2 separate regions of the Homo sapiens genome follow, and region 2 is linked to region 1. Evidence: fine-mapped expression QTL. Tissue or cell type: cerebellum. Region 1 holds a variant in brackets; the other region holds the start of a gene. All regions are shown on one strand. Distances are from middle to middle.

Region 1 (8,182 bases):
AACACTTGTATAAACAAGCAAAGAGAAAACTAATTAAAATGCTACACTTTTTACATCAGTATAGTGTGAGAAATAAAAATAAAAAATCTGTACACTTTAACTTCTTCCCTCTACTTTTTATTTTGTTTTTGTTTTAATTTATACCTTACTGAACTCTGTCTTGAACAGTTGTTGCAGTTATTGTTTTGTTTTGAGATAGGCTCTCACTTAACGCCCAGGCTGGCTGTAGCCTCGACCTCCAGGGTGGTGACTCCCACCTCAGCCTCCTGAGTAGCTGAAAGTGCAGGAACATGCCACTACACTCAACTAATTTTTTGTATTTTTTTGTAGTGACAGGGTTTCACTATGTTGCCCAGGCTGGTCTTGAACTCTTGAGCTCAAGCAACCTGCCTACCTTGGCCTCCCAAAGTGCTGGGATTACAGGCAAGAGCCACTGTGCCTGGCCATTTTTGACTTGTCCATCATTTAGTCTTTCTACTTAAGATATGAGTTTGCACACCACAATTACAGTGTTATAATATTTTGTGTTTTTCTGTGTGTTTACTATTAACAGTGAATTCTGCAGCTTCAGATAATTTCTTATTGCTCATTAAGGTCTTTTTCTTTCAGATTGAAGAATTCCCTTTAGCATTTCTTGTAGGACAGGTCTGGTGTTGATGAAACCCTTCAGCTTTTGTCTGGGAAAGTATTTCTTCTTCACAGTTGAAGGAAATTTTTGCTGGTTATATTATTCTACAGTAAAAGTTTTTTCCTTCAGCACTTGAAATGTGTCATGTCACTCTTTTTCCTGGCCTGTAAGGTTTCCACTGCAAAGTCTGCTGCGAGACGTACTGAAGCGTCATTGTATACTGTTTCTTTTCTCTTGCTTGTAGGCTGACTTCCTTATCCTTGACCTTTGGGAGTTTCATTATTAAATGCCTTGAGGTAGCCTTCTTTAGGTTAAATCTGCTTGGTGTTCTATAACCATCTTGTACTTGAATATTAATATCTTTCTCTAGGTTTGGGAAGCTGTTATTATCCTTTTGAATAAACTTTCTACCCTCATCTCTCTCTCTACCTACCTCCTCTTTAGGGCCAATAACTTTTTTTTTGAGACGGACTCTTGCTCTGTCACCCAGGTTGGAGTGCAGTGGCACAATCTTGGCTCACTGCAACCTCCACCTGCCGGGTTCAAGTGATTCTCCTGCCTCAGCCTCCTAAGTAGCTGGGACTACAGGCACGTGCCACCACACCTGGCCAATTTTTTTGTATTTTTTGTAGAGATGGGGTTTCACCGTGTTAGCCAGGATGGTCTCGATCTCCTGACCTCATCATCCACCCACCTCGGCCTCCCAAAGTGCTGGGATGACAGGCGTGAGCCACCATGCCCGGCCTTAAGGCCAATAACTCTTAGATTTGCCCTTTTGATGCTACTTTCTAGATCTTGTAGGCATGCTTCATTCTTTTCTTTCTTTCTTTTTTTTTTTTTTTTGTCTGTGACCATGTATTTTCAAGTAGCTTGTCTTCAAGCTCACTGATTCTTTCTTCTGCTTCATCAATTCTGCTGTTAAGAGACTGAAACATCCTTCGGCATGTCAACTGCATTTTTCAAATCCAGAATTTCTGCTTGATTCTACTTAATCGTTTCAATCTCTTTGTTAAATTTATCTGAAAAGATTCTGAATTCCTTCTGTGTTATTTTGAATTTCTTTGACTTTCCTCAAAACCGAGTTCCTTTTGAATTCGGTCTGAAAGTTCACATATTTCTGTCTCTTTGGGATTGGTCCCTAGTGCTTTAGTTAGTTTGGTGAGGTCATGTTTTCCTGGATGGTCTTGATGCTTGCAGATGTTCATCAGTGCATGCACATTGAAGAGTTAGGTATTGATATGGTTTGGCTGTGTCCCCACCCAAATCTCAACTTGAATTGTATCTCCCAGAATTCCCACGTGTTGTGGGAGGGACCCAGGGGGAGGTAATTGAATCATGGGGGCTGGTCTTTCCCATGCTATTCTCGTGATAGTAAGTCTCACGAGATCTGATGGGTTTATCAGGGGTTTCCGCTTTTGCTTTTTCCTCATTTTCTCCTGTTGCCACCATGTAAGAAGTGCTTTTTAACCTCCCACCATGATTCTGAGCCTCCCCAGCCATATGGAACTGTAAGTCCAATTAAACCTCTTTTTCTTCCCAGACTCGGGTATGTCTTTACAAGCAGCATGAAAATGAACTAATACAGTAACTTGGTACCAGTAGAGTGGGGCATTGCTGAAAAGATACCTGAATATGTGAAAGCAACTTTGGAACTGGCTAACAGGCAGAGATTGGAATAGTTTGAAGGGCTCAGAAGAAAACAGGAAAATGTGGGAAAGTTTGGAACTTCCTAGAGACTTGTCGAATAGCTTTATCCAAAATGCTGATGGTGATATGGACAATACAATTTAGGCTGAGGTGGTCTCAGATGGAGATGAGGAACTTTTTGGGAACTGGAGCAAAGATGACTCTTGTTATGTTTTAGCAAAGAGAGTGGCAACATTTTGCCCCTGCCCTAGAGATTTGTGGAACTTTGAATTTGAGAGAGATGATTTAGGGTATCTGGCAGAAGAAATTTCTAAGCAGCAAAGCATTCAAGAGGTTACTTGGGTGCTGTTAAAGCCATTCACTTTTATAAGGGAAGAAGAGCATAAAAGTTTGGACAGTGTGCAGCCTGGCTGTGCGATAGAAAAGAAAAACCCATTTTCTGGGGAGAAATTCAAGTCAGCTACAGAAATCTGCATAAGTAGCAAGGAGACTAATGTTAATCCCCAAAACCATGGGGAAAATGTCTCCAGGCAATGTCAGAGAACTCTGCAGCAGCCCCTCCCATCACATGCCTGAAGGGCCAAGGAGGAAAAAGTAGTTTCATGGACCGGGTCCAGGGTCCCCGTGCTGCGTGCAGCCTATGGACTTGGTGTCCTGTGTCCCAGCGGCTCCAGCCATGGCTGAAAGGGGCCAACATACAGCTCGGGCTGTGGCTTCAGAGGGTGGAAGCCTCAAGCCTTGGCAGCTTCCACATGGTGTTCAGCCTGTGGGTACACAGAAGTCACAAGAACTGAGGTTTGGGAACCTCTGCCTAGATTTCAGAATATTCATGGAAACACCTGGATGCCTGGGCAAAAGTTTGCTGCAGGGGCAGGGCCCTCATGGAGAACCTCTGCTAGGGCAGTGCAGAAGGGAAATGTGGGGTCAGAGCCCCCACACAGAGTCCGTACTGGGGCACCACCTGGTGGAGCTGTGAGAAGTGGGCCACTGTCTTCCAGACCCCAGAACAGCAGATCCACTGACAGCTTGCACCATGTACCTGGAAAAGCTGCAGACACTCAATGCCAGCCCACGAAAACAGCGAGGAGGGAGGCTGTACCCTGCAAAGCCACAGGGGCAGAGCTGCCCAAGACCATGGGAACCCAACTCTCGCATCAGCGTGACCTGGGTGTGAAACCTGGAGTCAAAGGAGATCATTTTGGAACTTTAAAATTTGATGGCCCCCTGGATTTAGGACTTGCATAGGCCCTGTAGCCCCTTTGTTTTGGCCAATTTCTCCCATTTGGAATGGCTGTATTTACCCAATGCCTCTACCCCCAGTGTATCTAGGAAGTAACTAGCTTGCTTTTGATAGGCAGAAGGGACTTACTTGACTTGTCTCAGATAAGACTTTGGACTGTGGACTTTTGGGTTAATGCTGAAATGAGTTAAGATTTTGGGGGACTCTTGGAAGGCATGATTGGTTTTGAAATGTGAGGACATTGAGATTTGGAGGGGCCAGGGACAGAATGATATGGTTTGGCTGTGTCCCCCAACAAATCTCAACTTGAATTGTATCTCCTAGAATCCCCATGTGTTTTGGAAGGGACCCCAAGGGGAGATAATTTAATCATGGGGGCTGGTCTTTCCTGTGCTATTCTCATGATAGTAAGTCTCAGGAGATCTGATGGCTTTATCAGGGGTTTCTGCTTTTGCTTCTTCCTCGTTTTCTCTTGCCACCACCATTTAAGAAGAGCCTTTTGCCTCCCACCATGATTTTGAGGCCTCCCTGGCCATGTGGAACTGTAAGTCCAATTAAACCTCTTTTTCTTCCCAGTCTCCGGTATGTCTTTACTAGCAGCATGAAAATG[G/A]ACTAATACAGGTATCTATTGTAGTCTTCACAGCCTGAGACAGTTTGTACCTATACTTCTTGGGAAGGCTTTCCAGGCATTTGAAGGAACTTGTGTGTTGTGATCCAAGTTTTTGGCTGCTGCAGCCAAACCTGCATTAGGGGGCACCCCAGGCCCAGTAATGCTGTGTAATACCCCAAGACCTTGGCGGTCTTGGATAAGATCCAGAAGAATTCTCTGAATTGCCAGGCCTAGACTCTTGTTCTCTTACCTTACTTTCTCCCAAACAAATGTAATCTTTCTGTGCTGTTCCTTCTGGAGCTGGGGGAGGGATGACACAAGCACCCCTATGTCCACCACCACTGGGACTGCACTGGGTCAGACCTGAAGCCAGCACAGCACTGGGTCTTGCTCAAGGCCCACGGTAACCACTACCTGGCTACTGTGTATATTCACTCAAGGCTCTAGGGCTCTACAATCAGCTGGACAAAGCCAGCCAGGCTTGTGTCCCTCCCTTTAGGGCAGTGAGGTCCCCTCTGCCTTGACTGGGTCCAGAGATGCCATCCGGGAACAGGATCTGGAGTCAGAAAACTTCGGAATTTACCTGGTTCACTATTTTACTGAGGCTGAGCTGGCACCCAAGTCACAAGACAAAGTCCTTCCCACACTTCCCTCCCATTTCCACAAGAAGAGTCTGTTTGTGGTCACCACCACCCCAGGCACACAGCAACTACTGCCTGGCCACTGCCAATGTTCACCCAAGGTTGAAGTCCTCTTCAGTCAGCTTGTGATGAATACTGCTAGGCCTGGGACTCTCCCTCCAGGTCACTGGGCTCCCCTCTGGCCCAGGGCAGGACTAGGAATGCCATCCAAGAGCCAAGGCCTCATACTGGGGACTCCAAGAGCCTGCTTGGTGCTCTATTCACTGTGGCTGAATTGGTACCTAAGCTCCAAGACAAAGACACCTTTACTCTTCCCTCTCCTTTTCTCAAGCAGAAGGAGTCTCCCCCAGTAGCCATCACAGCTGGGAATGTGCTGGATCATACCTGAAGCCAGCACATCTGAGTCTCACCCAAGGCCCATGATGAGTACCACCTGGCTACTACTGCTGATTATTCAGGGCCCAAGGGCTCTTTCATCAGCAGGTGATGAATCCTGCCAGGTTTGGATCCTTTCCTTCAAGGCAGTGGTAGGGGTCTAGCCCAGGTAGGTCTAGAAATGTCATCAAGGACCTAGGGCCTGGAATGGGGGCCTCAGGACTGCCTGGTGCCCTACCCTACTGTGGCTGAACTCGAAGACAAAGTCCTCTTTACTCTTCCCTCTCCTTAGGCAGAAGGAACGAGTCTCTCCTAGAGCTGCGAGCTGCACTGCCTGGGGCAAGGGAAGGGGTGGTATAAACACTCCCTTGGCCACCCCGGCTGGTATCTCACTGGACTGTGTGCCCCTGAAGTCTACTGGCTCCAAGCCCAGCACAGCATCAAGACTTGCCCAGGAATTGAAGTCCTTGTGGCTTAGACTGTCTTTCAAGTTTATTTAGGACTCCAGAGTACTTTAGCCCTTCTGGCTAGGAGTGGTCTAAATGCTCCCTCCATGGACACCAGCTGAGTTCTGCCTCATGATGCTTTCTGCTGTGACACAGCAGCACTAAGTTCCAATGCAAAGTCCCACAGTTACGGCACTCTCCCTCCCCTAAATGCACAGATTCTCTCCATGCCACACAACCACTGCTGGGGCATGGGGGAGGGGTGGCATCAGCAATTCAAGACTGTCTTTCCTACCCTCTTCAGTGCCTCTTTCAGTGATAGGAAGTTAAAAACAGGTACTGTGATTTCTCACCTTATTTTTGCTTCTTATGAAGGTGCTTTATTGTGTGGATAGTTAATTTGGTGTTTCTGCAAGGATGATGATTGGTGGAGGCTCCTATTCAGCCATCTTGCGCCACCTCCTCCCTCTTTTCTGGTCTGAGATTTTGAAGGTGAAGACTACAGAGGAGCAGCTTTCTCAATATGTTTGCCTTTGTCATTGGTCTCAGTGCTATGAAGGAAGGTGGTTTAGGCAACAAGTAATTGACTAGCATTTCAACTAGCCCTGACTGGGGGTTAATTGCCAATAAGTCACTTGTTATTGCAGGTGACCACAAGCCCCAACTTGGAAATGGTAGTAGGTATTCTTTTTTGATCTTGTCATGTATTTCAACCCTGCAGCCTCAGTAACTCCTAATAGGGAGGTTTTCTTGTCATCTTTTACTCCCTCCTGAAGGAGGAAAGTAGATAAATGACGTGCTGATTCTAAAACACCTAGAAGGAAAATGGTGCGTGCCCACCAATGCCATTTAGCCTTGTTTTGGAAGTACTTGCCAATGCCACTAAATAGCAACAAAACAGATTAATATCTAGAAACAAATTTAACAAAAATTGTGTAAGATCAATATAATGAAAACTTTAAAATTCCACTGACAACTAGGCCTCAATGACCCTGAAAGAACTGCCCAGCACAGGGTTAGACAATTCCCAGTGATAGCAAATGATTCACCTGCTTGAGCCTTACTGACCTTGGAGAGGTCAAACAACTCGCCTTTCATACACAAGCCAACCAATCCAGAGCTCATAACCCCAACTTCCCTCTTCATGGCCCTCTTTATGGTGCTCTCACATTCTGGGAGATTATCTCCCTACCCAATCACCCCAGGCCCGCATTCAGACAGCTAGGGACAGCCTCTACACCATTCCTGAGCATATCGACATTGTTCAAATAAACAAATCCTAAACTTGTTTACCCTGCCTCACTTCTTTCTTCCTGCAGTAATCACAATAGGGTTTTAGCCCACTAGTTCTCATTCTCTTTCTACCTGAGACCTCTTCTTGGGAACTCTGAGTAATAACTATTTTTTCAATACCAACAGTCTCCTGATATGTTGGCCTTACCGAATATTTTCTGTTAACACACTATATTTTAAAATACACTGTAATTAAAATATCAGATTTTTTTGCTACTAAGGTTAATATGGAAAAATCATCAAGTGAAAATAACTGCTGGGCCTGGTGGCTCATGCCTGTAATCCCAGCACTTTGGGAGGCCAAGGCGGGTGGATCACCGAGGTCAGGAGTTCGAGACTGGCCTGACCAACATGGTGAAACCTCGTCTGTACTAAAAATACAAAAATTAGCTGGGTGTGGTTGCAGGCACCTGTAATCTCAGCTACTAGGGAGGCTGAGGCAGGAGAATCACTTGAACCCAGGAGGAGGAGGTTGCAGTGAGCCGAGATTGCGCCATTGTACTCCAGCCTGGGCAACAGAGGGAAACTCTGTCTCAAAATAAACAAATAAAATAACCATAAAAATTCTGAAACGCAAGAGTAATGTAGGGTGGTGTGGAGAGGGGATGGATGGAGTGGCTGATGGAGGGTAGGGAGCCAGGGATGGCACTACGAACCATTAAATGGTTTGATGAATGTAGTGGATATAAATCTCAGTCCACAACAGTGTGAAAGAAATATTTATTTTCAGTAATTCTATCTAATTTTAATTTTGACCTTCATTTTGCCAGGGTGGAAATAAAACTTCAGTCATTTTAGGGCCTCACGATCACCAGCCCCCCATCCCCAGCATTGCTCTAAGAACCGCTGGGCTTACTTAATACCCAGGCATCAGGGTGGACCTCTGATCCTTGGTAGTTCATCCATTCACCCTGCATCCTTGTTTAAAATTGTCTGCTATAGCTTTTGTGATATAAACCCTTCCTGGATTACTTCCTTCCCAAAACAAGATGGTGAGGGAGATGGGAATTTAGCTCACCGTGAACACTGAGTTTGTGACAGGGGTGCACCCCAGGTGCGGCAGGAACATTCAGAGAAAGGAAGGCTTCATGGAAGAGTGGACTGTTGAGCTGGGCCTTGAAGCATATAGCCAACTCCACACGGCAAAAATGGGTGGGTGTGTACAGAGCATCACAGCAGAAACAGCACAAGCAAAGCTGGGGCTGAGGTGAAACCAGGTCTGACTTCTTGAGTCTAACTTGACTGTGCAATGGGGAGGCAATTCCTGCAAATATGGAGGGACGAGGGAAGTGAGCCTTGGGA
Region 2 (8,182 bases), 49 kb after region 1:
TAGTACATTTATGACAGCAACTTACTATTAAATAATAGACAAGAACATAGTGGTAAAGGCAGAATTAAAATATTTCCAACCTTAGTAATAAATGTTCTACACATAAATTTCAAATAATGGTTATCTAAATTTTAGTTTTTCAGGAAATTTGTTCATATGTATGTTATTCAAAACATCCTCTTACAATTGCTTAAATATCTGCAGGATCAATAGGAATGTCCTCTTTTATTAACAATATTGGTAATTTGTTTTCTTTCTTTTATTCTTCATCAGTCTCATGAGGGGTTTATCAAATTTATCCATCTTTTCAAAGAACAAATTTTTTTAGTTCTTCGAAAATTTTTGTTGGTTTTTCTCTATTGTTTGTTTTCTATTTCATTGATTTCTGTTCTTGTATTTATTATTTCAGTCATTTTGAATTTGATTTGCTTTTCTTTTTCTAGCTTCTTAAAATACAAATTTAGAACACTGGTTTTTAATTTTCTTTACTAATAATTTGTTTAAAATGATTCCAAGAACTGCTTTAGTTATAGGTTACAAGTTTGAGTTGCATCTTTTCATTATCATTCTATTCAAAATATTTTCTACTTTCCATTGTGATTTCTTCTTCAACCCATTGGTTAATTAGGATCTGTAGTGATACCTCCTTTTTCATTCCTGACATTGGTAATCTGTTTTCTCTTTTATTCTCAATCAGTCTATCTTGAAGTTTATTCATTTTGTTAATCTTTTCAAATATTTACAAAATACCAAAAAGTATGTTGCTTAATTTCCAAAGGTCTGAGATTCTTTTTAGTGATCTCTTATTGAGTTCCACTTTACTTCCACATGGTCAGGTGACATATACTGCACGCTTTCAATCCTTGGCGATTTATTGAGATTTCCTTTATGGCCTGCATATGGATAGTTTTTACCTTGTAACTCTACTTCAGCTCATAATCAGGAAGAGAGGGGGCACTAAATTAAATGCACACAAGATAACCTGGGAAAATGCTGAGTGCTCTCTCAAATTCTTCTTAGTCTGGGACATCATTTTTTTCCCAGTATTATTTCTTCTCATTTCTTTAGAAATAATAATGAATTGCGTATTTCCTAGCCTTCATTCAGCTTTAAATGAAGTAGTATACTGTCTTAAAGAACTCCACATTAACGACATAAATGTGGAAAAAAAAAAAAAGGAAATGTTTATGGATCATAATCTTAACTGGCTCTACTATCATACACCCACTGAGAACCTGCACAAAGACTCTGCTCTTTTCCTGTGTCGCTATTCTCTACTGGCCCCATCTCTCTTTCCTTTTGCACATAAGGCCAAATTCACATTAGGAGAATAAGACAACTCCTAAGAAATGCAGGCATGTAAATACCTGCTGCAATAAGAACACTTTATTTAGACACCCAAAAGAATTGCCCACTTATGATAGCTAGGTAAGAAATGTTGCTAGGCAATGCAAAATATACAACAACACGTAACAAAAAGTATATTCCTCTGGTAGGAAATGTCAAAAGTTGAGAGGTAACTGTTTTGTTTTGTTTTATTTTGTTTTGTTTTGTTTTTTTTTTTTGAGACAGAGTTTCGGAGTTTCGCTCTTGTTGCCCAGGCTGGAGTGCAATGATGCAATATTGGCTCACGGCAACCTCCACCTCCCAGGTTCAAGCAATTCTCCTGCCTCAGCTTCCCGAGCAGCTGGCATTACAAACATGCACCACCACGCCTGGCTAATTTTATATTTTTAGAAACGGGGTTTCTCCATGTTGGTCAGGCTGGTCTCAAACTCCTGACCTCAGGTGATCTGCCTGCCTCAGCCTCCCAAAGTGCTGGGATTACAGGCGTGAGCCACCGCGCCTGGCCATAACTGGTTTTATGACCATAAAAGATCTGTTCCTCTACTAAACTACCTCCATTCACAGGCAGAACAGTGTACATGGTACTTAGAGAGTGGACTCTCGAGCCAATCTGTTTTGATTTAAATCCCAGCTTCCCCACTTTCTACTGTGTAATTTTGGCAAGTTGCTCTAAATCTCTGTTTCTTCATCTATAAAATGAAAATAATTCAAAGCACTGCTGTGAGGATGAAATCAGTTCGTATGTGTAAAACACTCAAAATAGTGCCCACACACAGTAAGCTCTCAAGAACAATGAACTTGCTGACAATCTGCCTACTTGCTGGCCAATTGGTCAGTATGTCTTGATTACTCTATGGATCTAATCAAAGACAATGAAGTCACACCCAACTACATCTTTCTCTTTATCACAAACATGTCCTGAATGCCTTAGCCTGTTTTCATGTTCCCTCTGAATCATTCTGTCACTACCCTTAGTTCAGGTACCATTTAAGTCTTCCTTTGACTACCATAGAGTCAGGATGCTTGAGGGACATATGCACTGGGATGTTCCACCAACATCTCAAATGCATGTGTTCAAAATTGAACATCACCTTTCTCCTCCAAGCTGGCTCTTCCCTCTATATTCCCAGTCTCAGTCACAGACAATATGATCTACACAATCAATCAAGTAAGCCCAAAATCTAGGAATCATCTCCAGAGGAGCCTGCCTCCTCTTTCCTAACTGGTTAATGCCTGCTTATCCTTCAGGACAGCTCAGACATCATCTCCTGTGGGAAGCTGAGCCTGGGTACTCCTTCTCTGGGCTTTATAGCACCCTGGATATCTCTCTATCACAGCACTTACCACCTTATAATACAATTGTCTGTGTCTGTCTCCACAGCTTGGCTGTAAGCCCCTTAAAGCCAGGAACTATCATTCATCTCTGTATCCAGCACCCAACACAGCACATGGGACCTAAAGAACCCTCAACTAAGCTTATAGGGGCTGAAATAAAACTTAGAGACAGAGGTCGTGCTATGTTGCCCAGGCAGCCTCTAATTCCTGGACTTGAGTAATCCTCCTGCCTCAGCCCCCTTCGTAGCTGGGATTACTGGCATGTACAACCATGCCTCGCATCATCTTTCTGAAGTACAAATCTAATTACATCGCCCACCTGTTTAGAAAAACCTTTAGTCTCCCCCATTGCCTACTGTTAAAAAAAAAAAAAAATTCAAACTCTTTTTAGATTTCCCACAACCTCCCCTCAACCTACCTACCAGTCTCACAGCTCACCATGCCTTTACCTACCTTGAGGGAACCACATGAACTAACATTACCTCTACAGGCAATCTTCTCTGTCCTCAAAGAGAACCAGTCACCCCTTCTGTGCTACTACATCTATTGTGAGAGTTATAATAGATGAGTCTTTTTCTGTAAGTCTTACCCTCACCTTCCAGGACTGATCAACGTGAAGATCAAGACTAAACCTCACTCCTTCTTTACATCCCTCTCTCCTACAGGTTATGTAGCACAATCCTTAGTATACAGTACTTAGTCAATAAATGTTTGCTGTATGAAGAAATCAGTGGCAGATATGTCATCTCTACAAAAACAGTTAAGTATAGGTTCCATTCATAGGTCAATAGCTTCATTTTTTCACACAGATGAAAGAACAGAATGTTGTTCTAACAAAGACAAGTAAAATGTAGAAGCAACAGAAACTCAAAACCTCCTAGTTTTAAGATTAAAAAATACAAATCTCAAACCTTGTAGATAAAGAATGTCATTCAATAAAGAATGTCATTCAATAAAGAATGTCATTCAATTAATAAATAATGTATAATATTAAGCATCTACACCACGTGAAAGCACAAACCAAGCCAGGCACTGTGGTGATATAACAAATGAATCACAACTTCTGCCCTCCAGGCACTCATGTATGATGGCAAAAGGCACCACTTAGGGTGGCCAGGCAGTTGTTTGGGCAAGAGGAGGCAAGAATTTAAATTAGAAGGCAACGGTGGGAGTGTAAAGCAGGAATATTTAGCCTCAGCTGGACTGAGAGTATGTGATATCACAGAAGTGGATTCTTGACCTTTCAAGCCCGCACTACTGAGAGAAGAGCAAGGTGGATTGGCAGAGGATGCACTTAAAGTGGATTGACAAAACGTCGTATCTTCCTTATCCTGCTTCCAAATAAGCCTCTAAGAAAGGTGGCAGCATGATGTGGTGGAAAAAGCATCAGGCTAGGATCTGAGCCATCTGAGTTTCCATCAAGGCACTACCATTTGTGATATCCTCCACCCTGCCCCGAACCAATCATACAACAAAGCCTTGGCCTTCACTCATTTATCCCACAGGTAATCTCTGAACACCTTTCTTATGCAGGCACCACACTAAGCACTGGGGGTACAGATGTGTCGTGAAGAAATAATATCCCTGCTCTAATGGAGCTTGTAGCCTAATAGGGAAGTCAGACTTTACTCATAAACTGTCCATTCCAATCATGACATACAGTATAGTAGTAAGAGAATGGACTCAGACCCAGAATACGTGGGTTCAAACCCTGGCTCTGCTACTACCAGCTGTGTCACCAAAGGCAAGTTTTACTTAACCTGTGTCTTTTCTCATCTGTCAACTTGGTGTAACAACAGTTAATATTCAACAGTGATTGATATGATATATGTAAAGTAGCAGAAGAGTGGTAAGCGCTATCTGGGTGTTTGCAATGCATACCTACCGCTATTACTGATCATTCCCAGTAACGCATTCAGCCACCTGAGTCCATACTCACCGCTTGCTCATTCCTCATCCCGATGTACTTGATGCCTAGCTGCTGGGCAGCAATGGCGATTTCGGTCACTGGGATGCCTACGATGCCAAATATGTACTCCACATCCTGAGGAACGAAGAACAGGGGAGTAAACTCCCAAGGCCCCACCATATCGCCACATCCTTCCCTCCCTCCCGGGCGCTAAAAGGAAAACCCCCCGACCCCCATCGCCCATTTCTACTCGTCTCCAAGACAACATCGCGGTCCCCGCCAGCTTCCGTAGGAGCCTTTCATTCCAGGAAGGTCCATCGTACTTGCGTTTTCAGGGCCTGAGCGATGACTTTAGCACCAGACACCTGCTCCTCGCTGCGCTCTGCGAAGTTACTGTCCGGCATCTTCCACCGAAAAGCTCTAAGCACTCACGCAGCCGGCAAACAAGCGGAATCATCCAGCAAGGCAAACGCGAAATCGGCAGCACGCCACCTCTGGTACTGCACCTCTGACGGACAGGAGGGCAACCAACTGCCTTAAACAACGGGAAGGAAGAGGCGGTCTAAATTCGTCCACTTCCCGGGAGAGGTGAGAATGTAAACACGCGCGTTCTCCAATCAGAACTGCGCTCTCTTCTCGGCTCCTCCATTCGCGCGCCAGAATGCCAGAGGGAGGCGGGACTAGCAGGAGATTGCTGCCTATGCAAAGCAGGTAAGAAGCCGAACTCTGAGGCCTCTCGCCATTGTCTCCGAGTCGGCCAGCTGGAGCGTTTTCGGGGCTGTAAAGGGAGAATGGCGCATGCGCATATTCAGGGCGGAAGGCGCGCTAAGAGCAGGTACGGAGGGGGCGTGGTGCGGCGCGGAGGGGGTGTGGTAAGGGCGTGCGGTCCAGACCCCGCCCCGGGCGCCCAGTTGGACTTGGGGAGGGCTGCGCAAAGGCTGCCGGGAGCTGGGAAGCCCGGCGCGCGTCGTTTGCTGGGGCTGTTTGTGCGTTGCTGCTGTGCTACCGCGTTGCGTTTTCTAGGCATTTACTTACACGCTTTGTGGTTTACGCTCTCATAACCTTGTGGTTTTATAGTCCTTAAATTATTGTAGCGCACGTTACTTAAATCCAGAAGCAGATGTGTACCCCAGCAAGAGATAAAATGACGCTCAGAGTCAGTAGATCCAGACCGTGCCTGAGATCCTGAATCCTGTTTCCTACCCACTATTCAGCCATTGGGTCACAAGCGATGAAAAGAGCACCTTGAAGGTAGTATAGAGCACTGTTTTCTCCAGCCCTTGCTACTAATCCATATTACTCTCCGCTAATATCTTTCCAAAATTAGGAACTATGGCGTTTCATAATTCTTAGGTTGGGTCCCTACCTACAACCAGCCCTGCACCCGATAGCCTTTTAAAACATTTTTGTGTGAAAATCGTTTGCAATGTGCAATATCTGAAACTACTGCCTTGGAGTCATTAGACCCTCTGCTCAGTGACAATAAACATAAAATTTCCAATTGTAATAAACAGTGGAACTTTTAATTTTTTGAGGATTTGGAGTCATTTTAAGCAAAAAGAACAGTGATAAGTGGACAGTAAAGAGATGAGAGGGGAGTGGGTCATGGGTAGTGAAATGAGTGAGAAGCACTGGAAGTGAAACGATTTCTAAACCCAGACATTTTCAAACTGTAGTCCTGGGTCTTTTCAAAAGGTCTTCCCCTCTTTTTCTCAACCCCTCAACCCCACCCCAAGCAGAGGAGAGTGAAGTGGTTGCCTCCCTGCATATGTGGACGGTGTTAGTCCATTTTCATACTGCTATAAAGAAATACCCAAAACTGGGTAATTTATAAAGAAAAAGAGGTTTAATGGTCTCACAGTTCCAAATGGCTACGGAGGCCTCACAATCATGGCAGAAGGTGAAGGAGGAGCAAAGGCATGTCTTACATGGTGGCAGGCAAGAGAGCGTGTGCAGGGGAACTGCCCTTTATAAAACCATCAGATCTCATGAGACTTACTATCATTAGAACAGCATGGGAAAAATCCCCTCCCCATGATTCAGTTACTTCCCACTGGGTCCCTCTCACCACATGTGGGGATTATGGGAGCTATAATTCAAGATGAGATTTGGATGAGGACACAGCCAAACTGTTCTGCCCCTGGCCCCTCCCAAATATCATATCCTCACATTTCAAAACCAATCATGCCTTCCCAACAGTCCCCCAAAGTCTTAACTCATTTCAGCATTAACTCGAAAGTCCACAGTCCAGAGTTTCATCTGAGACAAGGCAAGTCCCTTCCGCCTATGAGCCTGTAAAATCAAAAGCAAGCTAGTGGCTGGGCGCAGTGGCTCACACCTGTAATCCCAGCACTTTGGGAGGCCGAGGCGGGCGGATCATGAGGTCAAGAGATGGAGACCATCCTGGTCAACACGGTGAAACCCTATCTCTACTAAAAATACAAAAAATTAGGCGGGCATGGTGGCAGGCGCCTGTAATCCCAGCTACTCAGGAGGCTGAGGCAGGAGAATGGTGTGAACCCGGGAGGCAGAGCTTGCAGTGAGCTGAGATTGGGCCACTGCACTCCAGCCTGGGGGACAGATCGAGACTCCGTCTCAAAAAAAATAATAAAATTAAATTTAAAAATAAATAAATAAAAGCAAGATAGTTACTTCCTAGATACAATGGGTGCACGGGAGTGAGGTAAATATACCCGTTCCAAATGGGAGAAATTGGTCAAGACAAAGGGGCTAAAGCCCCCATGCAAGTTCAAAATCTGGCAGGGCAGTCAAATATTAAAGCTCCAAAATGATCTTTGGATCATTTTGACTTCGTATCTCACAGCCAGATCATGCTGATGCAAGAGGTGGGCTCCCACAGCCTTGGGCAGCTCTGCCCTTGTGGTTTTACAGGCTACAACCCCCTCTCCCAGCTGCTTTCACAGGCTAATATTGAGTGTGTGCAGCTTTTCTAGGCACATGGTGCAAGTGGTCAGTAGATCTACCATTCTGGGGTCTGGAGGACGGTGGCCCTCTTCTCACAGTTCCACCAGCAGTGCCCCAGGAGGGACTCTGTATGGGGGCTCCCACCCCACATTTCCCTTCCACACTGCCCTAGCAGAGGTTCTCTATGAGGGCTCTACCCCTGCAACAAGCTTCTGCCTGGACATCCAGGCATTTCCATACATCCTCTGAAATCTAGGCAGAGGTTCCCAAACCTCAATTTTTGACTTCTGTGCACCTGCAGGCTCAACACCATGTGGAAGCTGCCAAGGCTTCAGGCTTGCACTGTCTGAAGCCAGGCCTGAGCTGTACATTGGCCCTTTTTAGCCATGGCTGGCATGGCTGGGATGCAGGACACCAAGTCCCTAGGCTGCAAACAGCAGGGGGACCCTGGACCTGACCCATGAAACCATTTTTCCTCCTAGGTTTCTGGGCCTGTGATGGGAGGGCCTGTTGTGAAGGTCTCTGACATGCCCTGGAGACATTTTCCCCATTGTCTTGGTGATTAATAGTTAGCTTCTTATTACCTATGCAAATTTCTGCTGCCAGCTTGAATTTCTCCCTAGAAAATGGGTTTTTATTTTCTACTGCATCGTCAGTCTGCAGATT

The links. PIP is the estimated chance that this variant, and not a neighbour inherited with it, causes the effect.
Region 2: HACL1 starts here. The variant in region 1 is fine-mapped to the expression of HACL1 in cerebellum (GTEx, PIP above 0.99).

The regions. Positions count from the first base shown.
Region 1 is chr3:15,547,207-15,555,388 of GRCh38, forward strand. No RefSeq gene overlaps it. Among named protein-coding and RNA genes, the nearest start is that of COLQ, 30 kb to the left of the region's middle. The variant G/A (reference allele first, on the strand shown) is at 4,126.
Region 2 is chr3:15,596,469-15,604,650 of GRCh38, forward strand. It overlaps HACL1 (2-hydroxyacyl-CoA lyase 1), which reads right to left and starts at 5,101. Exons shown (of 17, transcript NM_012260.4): 1 at 4,915-5,101; 2 at 4,622-4,726. The coding sequence starts at 4,995. It overlaps BTD (biotinidase), which reads left to right and starts at 5,277. Exons shown (of 4, transcript NM_001370658.1): 1 at 5,277-5,426. RefSeq lists an enhancer at 5,006-5,648 and a silencer at 5,490-5,549.